2 linked regions of the Homo sapiens genome follow. The protein of the gene in region 2 interacts with the protein of the main gene of each other region in a pairwise test. Each region holds a gene or a part of one and is shown on either strand. Other genes may lie near its edges.

Region 1 (3,654 bases), on a different chromosome or scaffold from region 2:
TCCCTGGAGAGAAGTATGGTGCCACTCATCCCAGAGCAGTTCTCATCTCTCCAGGATCCTTCAGGTTACTGGAACTGGGACCTGGCCAATCAGGGGCATTTGGTGAGAGCAGGGCTCACCCCAGGTAGAATATACCACACTCTGTCTTGCCTTGACCTCATTCAGATACATCTTAGTAAAGCATAAATCATTACGGTATATTTTTAAAACAAGACCAAAGGGCTTAGTGAGACATATTTTACCTGGCATCATGCCCTCAGTGGGCCATTTCTTCACTACCTAATGCTTTTATAACCACTTTCTTAACCGAAGAAAACAACACAAAAGCCCCACATTCTTTACAAAATCCCTTTGGTAGGCAAAGCTCTTGCCTTTGGCCTCAACCTGGCTTCTCAGTAACTGTCAAGCTCTTGCCCACTTCCAGCTACCCCGCCCCAAGTTCCTGGGCACTTGGCCTCCTGTCACCGACTCTCTCTGACTCTGGCTCTAAGAAAGACAGTCCCCATCACATGTATCCACTCACTTGTAGAAGGCTTGGTTCTCGATTCCACATTTCCAGAGGTGCTTACACGCTTCAGGAGTTGGAGCAAAATATGTAAGAATAATTTTCTTTTCCTGCAAAAAATTCCACATTGATATGGCTGAGTGTGGATGGAGAAGCAAAGGGTGAAGTAGGCGAGGACCCTGACCCCAGAGCTGTTAGAGGCCCTGGCAGCTGGCTAGTTAGAGGGGAGGGCCTGTGGGACCCACTGAGGCAGAGCTCAGTTAAGTGCATCACATCATACTTGGCAAGTCCAATCAGGGTAAGTCTCAGCTGGCACAAAAGTGGCACAAATTGAACCAGGAGAGCTCTTGGTGAGAAAGTTGCCCTTGCCTCTGGAATTCCCATATACACGAAAGAAAAAGAGCCTTCCTTTGCATTTCCTGGAGGTAAAGATCTCTTGAGTGGAAGCTCTGGGTGTCAATAGCATCCCTGAGGAAGTCCTGTGCTCCAGGGCCTTCCCGCTCCTTCATATTGTACCTCCAGGTCCTGACCTTGGTCTTGGCTTAGTATGTGGGTAGCTTGGCTCTACTGGGGTCCCTCAAGCTTGGCTCTGGCCACCAGGAAGCATCCCATCACCCCAGCCCTCCTTGAAGAGAAGGAAGCCAGCACTCACCTCTTTCTGACTTACGTATAAATAGAAAGTCTTTCCTTCAAATTTCAGCTTGGTCACCTCATTCCTAGAAGCACAAAGATAGTGCCTGTCACCTCATTGTGGGCTGCTTGTTCACAGCTAAATCTTGTAGATGCACAGCCCACCCCAACTGGAAGGGGCTCCAGGCACAGACACAATTTTAGCCAAAATCAGAACTGAAACAAGACAGCAGCGCAGTGGCCTTAGAGAATGTTGTTGAAACAGTTCAATCCACAGTTTTCTGGTCAATCACACTATAGTAATAGGGTGACAGGAGGATTTCGGGCTTATCAACAGTGGCTGTAAAAGGGAAACATTTGCATGGAAAGTGAGTCTAGGTAGAGTATCTGGGGTCATTTCAGGATTGGGTTCATAACACAGGTGCATTATCTGGATGGGACTGTCAAACGTAAGATGCCACAGGTAGCTGATGAGGCCAAAGTTCAAGATACAGCAAATAATGAGAAACAATGCAACCAGGTTCTGAGGGAGTTGAGTCTTTCAGGTGACTGTGCCACTGGATGGAAAATGCAGTTTAATGCAGACAAATATCAAACAATCTCAGGGAGCGGGGCAGGGCAACATACCAAAGAGAGAGAACAGATTACATGGAACAGTCATGCAGCGTACTGACCAGGAAAGGGGCTTAGGGGTTATTGTAGAAAAATCCTTGAAGCCACCAGCCCAGTGAATGGCTGCAGTAAAAGAGGCAAACAGGATACTGGGGTACATCACCCGTGGGACAGACACAAATCAGAAGAAGTGACATGGTTACTGTACATGGCACGGCCTAGACCTCACCTCCACATCCACCTCCTGCTCTCAGCCTTGGTTACATTTGCAAAACGGAAAAACTACTGGGTCTTAGGTGAATGTCCCTGAGAGCCATGGAACTAGGCCTCAGCACTGGTTGCTCCTCACTTCCCTTCTATCTGCCCAACATAGCTGCCCTCTGGAGTCTCTCAGCCCTCTCCATGTCACTGGAGGCCCCATTTTTCAACCCAACTGGGACCCCCAAGGCGGTCTTGTCATGCACATTCACCTCCACTTGGCTGCTGCTTTTTTTTGTAATTTCTAAGGAGATTTCCTTCATCTCCTAGGAAATAGTAGAAAGGTAGCGAGAATCATGTACCCAACTTACTGCTGGAAAAAGTTCAGGGGACAGAGGAAAATCACTTGTTCTCCATGCTCCTGAAAATCATGGCTGGGTCAGGATGAGATTTCACAACTTCTGACCACCAGTTCTGAGCTAACACAAGTCACACGGTATTCCTTCCCTGTTTGATTCCCTCTCAAACTCCCTCTCAATCAACCATCAATCTCATACACACACAGTACAATAATGCCAATTGGTTAATATATAGACAAGCACACAGATCACCTAGGTTCCAACAAGCAAGCTAGGAAAGTAAGGAGTTTTATTTTGAGAGTGAGATTGGGTTTACATCTATTATTACAGAGTTGACACATGGTGAAGAGGAGACTTCTAGAAGAAGTGGTGCATGAGAGAAGCCGTGGAAAGAAAAGTGTCTGTGAGAACCAAGAGCCATCATGGTTTCTGGAAGGGTGGGTATAATTTAGGGACTGCAGGTGTCTGTGACAGGTGTGTCCTACTTGTTTCTAGCCAAACATTCCCTCTAACAGGGACCTCACCCAACAGCTACTCTGGTTGGAATGTGGATCTGGGCCCTCTAAAGAATATCAAATAGCCCAGATGTATCCAGGCAGCAGAGACCCCACACTAGGAGGGCTGAGGCCTGATCCTGCTCATTGCCTTTTTCTGAAAAGCATTTTGTTGGACAGGAGATTGCAAATCCTCACATCTTCACCCAGAGAGCACAGTGAAGTGGGCCGACTTGAGGATGCCTAGGAAACAGGTATGTTGGGGTGTATTCTGGTAACTCCAGGGCAGCAGCTGCCTTGTGGCACGGCTGTTGTCCTGGGGAGTCGAGTTTCCTGTCCTGTGTGAGGAGCAGTTTCACCAGCACTCTGGCTGACGATCGTAATGCCCTCCTTCACAAAATCAAGGTGGGCTGGAAAGGCGGTATCTGTCCTCAAGCTCAAACTCAGTGGGGGAGCTGAAGAGGGCACAGCGGGATAGATGGTCTGCAGTGTCCCCAGCAGAACGCTGACTAGGAAGCAACTGTACTCAAGATTCCTCATGAGCTCTCCTGGAGAAGACAAACCAAACAGACTTCCCCCCACTGAGCTCTGCTGGACCAAGGGAAGCCACTTATCTAAGCCCCTAGAAGGAGCTGGCCAGCTTAGACTTGGCAGTCTGAGGCCCAGGAAGGTACAGAAATCACAAGAGCTTAGTAGAATATGCAAAATGTTTTGATGACGCTGACAGATGTTTGTATGGGCTGGCCAGCTAAAGGGTCTCCAGGAAAGCCAAATGTCAATCAACAAACCAGAGTCTGCCCAGAGGCATGCAGCAGAACAGACCCCAAATAAAACAGAGAGGGGCAGGAGAGGAAGC
Region 2 (3,273 bases):
TATCACAGGGCAGGAGAGGTGGGTTAAGGACAGCCTGTGTTTAAGGGGCAGCAGCAATAGCCCAGGGTTGGCATGAGGCTTGCAGAAGAGATGGAGTCTGTAGGTTCTTGATGGTCCCTGCCTTGGAGATGAGGAGAGCAAGGTTTCTTAATCCCAGTTTTAGGAGACCTTCACTTACTCAAGGGTCCTTTGCCAGGTGGCATGTGCCAATGTTGCTGGCCTTCTTTGCTTCAAAAATAGCCATTAGGAATAAGGGAAGAGCTCACACTTTCCCCTCTCTAAAAGAAAATAAAAGTCCCTTCCCCATCAGGAAAAAAATCTTGATTAAGAATCGTCAGTTTATCAGACTGCTGGACATTGCATATACAGCATGTAACTTCCAATTCTTCCCACGGCTTCTAGTGAAGATTCCTATTCTCTCCATCCCTCCCCTCCACAAAAGGCCAGGAGTTCCAGGGAAAACTGGCAAAAAGAACTAATCTGCAGCAGTTTCTCAAAATATGCAAATAATTGAGTCAGGTTTCTTGGGAGAAAAATGGAGGGAATGGGGGAGGGGGAGGCGTTGAGACAATTAAACTTCACAGGAAGAAGTTGGGAGTTGATGGAAAGAAGGCAGCCACTTAGGGCTGTAAGGGCAGGAGGCAGCCTGGCAGTTGGCACAATAGTCCAGCGAAGAAAAAGGAAAATCATCAGTCAATTTCACCACCAAAAAATAAAAGTACATATAAGCCCAGATGGAACGGAGATAGTGGTGCTAAATCTTCTGCTGTGGAGAAAAAAGAGAAAGAGAGAATGTTAATGGGGTTGGGATTAAGGAGACCCCCCCCAAAAAAGTTGAGCAAATCTGGAGAAAGGAAAGCAGCACATAACGGAGAATCAGATCACCAGCTGCATGTCCCAGACTCGTAAGAGGTAATAATCACAAAAGCAGAACCCCTCGAGCCCCATGTGGCTGAGACTACTTAGTCTCTGGCCTGATCAGATTAGCGTGATTGACAAGTTGCTGGCACTCAGGAGCCTCCTTCCTCAAGAACAATCTTGGGGGTGACTGAAGGACATACCATGGAGGGGTAAGACACTTGGCCCCCCTCATCATCCAAAACCAACACATCCAACTCTTCCTCCAGAGATTCCTGCCCCTCGTCCTGCTGTGAACACATGCAATTTGTTAGTATGAGTAGAGACAGGAACCTCATGAGTGTGTGCCAGAGCTAGGGAAACTCTGAAAATTTGTAAACTCAAACAAAACAAGATATAATAGTAAGAGAAGGGCAAAACATTCATAAACAGGGAGGGAGAGGAAAAAGGTAATGTTTGAAAGTAGATCAGTTAGTGTTAGTCATATCAGTAACACTTTTACAGACATGCTTCCCCCATTTTGACCACTGCAGAATAACGGCCCAAGAAATCCCAACATGAGTCAGAACTCTTACTTTTTCCTGAAAACCCCTACCAGAAAAGGATGCGATCTTTCTCTGTACTTTTTTTTGTGTTTCACAAAACACATAGGCTTCAAAATAGAACTAGCCTTAGACAGATAGCAGTATATAAAGAGAATTTACCATCAAGGGTGTTGTTCCCTTCAATGGCTCCATGTCGCCTAGATCCCCCGATCGATCCAGTGTTCTATTGTGGTCTCCTCTCTCATTTGGTGTGGAATAGTTGTTATCTGGTTAAAAAAAAAAAAGTACACAGAAATATGACATTCCCCTCTAGTGTAAAACGTATATCAAACAGATAGGTGTAATTAGGCATCACTGTTGGGAACTGAGCTTGTCAAATGCTCCACAAAGGCATTAAAGTCTGATGGTCCCCGACTTAAAGAACTTGAATCTGGCTGACCGTGGTGGCTCATGCCTGTAATCCCAGCACTTTGGGAAGCTGAGACGGGCAGATCACTTAAGGCCAGGAGTTCAAGATCAGCCTAGCCAACATGGTGAAACCCCATCTCTACTAAAAATATAAGAATAAGCCAGGTGTGATGGTGTACACTTGTAGTCCCAGCTACTCGGGAGGCTGAGGTATGAGAATCACGCCACTGCACTCCAGCCCAGGTGAACGAGTGAGACTCTGTCTCAAAAAAAGAACTTGAATCTAAGATGGAAGACAATATGTATAAAATACCCAGAATATGACATAATAAAGCTAAACAAGAGGTTTGTCTGAAAAGGTTATGGGAATTAAAAGAAGAGCGAGTGAAATATGCTGCAATCGTTAGGAAGGACCTGACAAGGGAAAACAGGACTTGAGTTAAGCCTTTGGAGATAAAGAGAATTTAGAAAGACAAAAGGGAAGGACATACCAGTAAGAGGTATTACATGAGCAGAATCAAACTATAGAGTGAATAGATAGAATAGCAAGCAGAATAGTTGGGCAGAAACAGATGTATCCATTCACTCCAGAGAAGGAGACTGGGGTAGGAATATAATGGGCTACAAACTTGAATGTGTAGTAATAGGAGAGGCATAGAAAGATTTCTGAAAACCTTTGAGCATGTAGGAATGTAGAAAAAGTAGACGGATCAGATTTTATTAAATTTCCTTACATCCTTCAAAATGGAAATGATCAGCCAATGCTCTCCCAGGATGGTAAATGGTAAGGGTATTAGAAAAAAAACTATAGAGCTAGACAGCTCTCCTTAGCCAGTGAAATATTACTCCACATCCTTAGGCAGGAATTAATCACCTACCTAGTGATTTTGTGTTTGATCCCATATTGCTCATCTGAATTTCTTCCCGATCAGGTTTCTTATCTGTATGAAGTCAGAAAGTTATCCATGTCAAAAACAATTCTTCAAAATCTGTACACATCATGAAAATTGCTCTCTGGTCCTCCTTCCTTCCCTTCATTCACACTTCTACTTAGCACCAACTATGTGCATCACAATGCCTGGATAATTTTTAAGCTTTTTGTAGAGATGAGGTCTCACTATGTTGCTCAGGCTGGTCTGAAACTCCTGGGCTCAAGTGATTCTCCCACCTCAGTCTCCCAAAGTACTGGGATTACAGGTGTGAGCCATCACACCTGGCCCCTACAGACTCTTAAATCAAAAAACAATTCCATCTAAACTAGCAGTTTTCAAATTATTTGGTCTCAAGGCCGTTTTACAGTCTTAAAAATTATAAGGATCTAAAGAACCTTCATTGGTGTGAGTTTTATGTATTAATTGTTACCATACTGACAAGTTTAAAGTATCTATTTCACTTAATGGTAAACTTCTTACATGTTATCATAAATAATCTTTAATAACATCCTTTTCATTTTTGTATATCT

Evidence for each region. Proteins that work in one complex are often made in the same cells at the same time.
Region 1: the proteins of CTNND1 (region 2) and FRMD5 interact in binary tests that used the Homo sapiens proteins (3 or more experiments, as listed by UniProt).

The regions. Positions count from the first base shown.
Region 1 is NC_000015.10:43,887,652-43,891,305, forward strand, and holds part of FRMD5 (FERM domain-containing protein 5), read right to left. Parts: intron 1,222-3,654; coding exon 1,158-1,221; intron 616-1,157; coding exon 524-615; intron 1-523. UniProt on the Homo sapiens protein: May be involved in regulation of cell migration. May regulate cell-matrix interactions via its interaction with ITGB5 and modifying ITGB5 cytoplasmic tail interactions such as with FERMT2 and TLN1.
Region 2 is NC_000011.10:57,813,790-57,817,062, reverse strand, and holds part of CTNND1 (catenin delta-1), read right to left. Parts: intron 2,753-3,273; coding exon 2,690-2,752; intron 1,670-2,689; coding exon 1,563-1,669; intron 1,149-1,562; coding exon 1,062-1,148; intron 767-1,061; coding exon 755-766; 3' UTR 1-754. UniProt on the Homo sapiens protein: Key regulator of cell-cell adhesion that associates with and regulates the cell adhesion properties of both C-, E- and N-cadherins, being critical for their surface stability.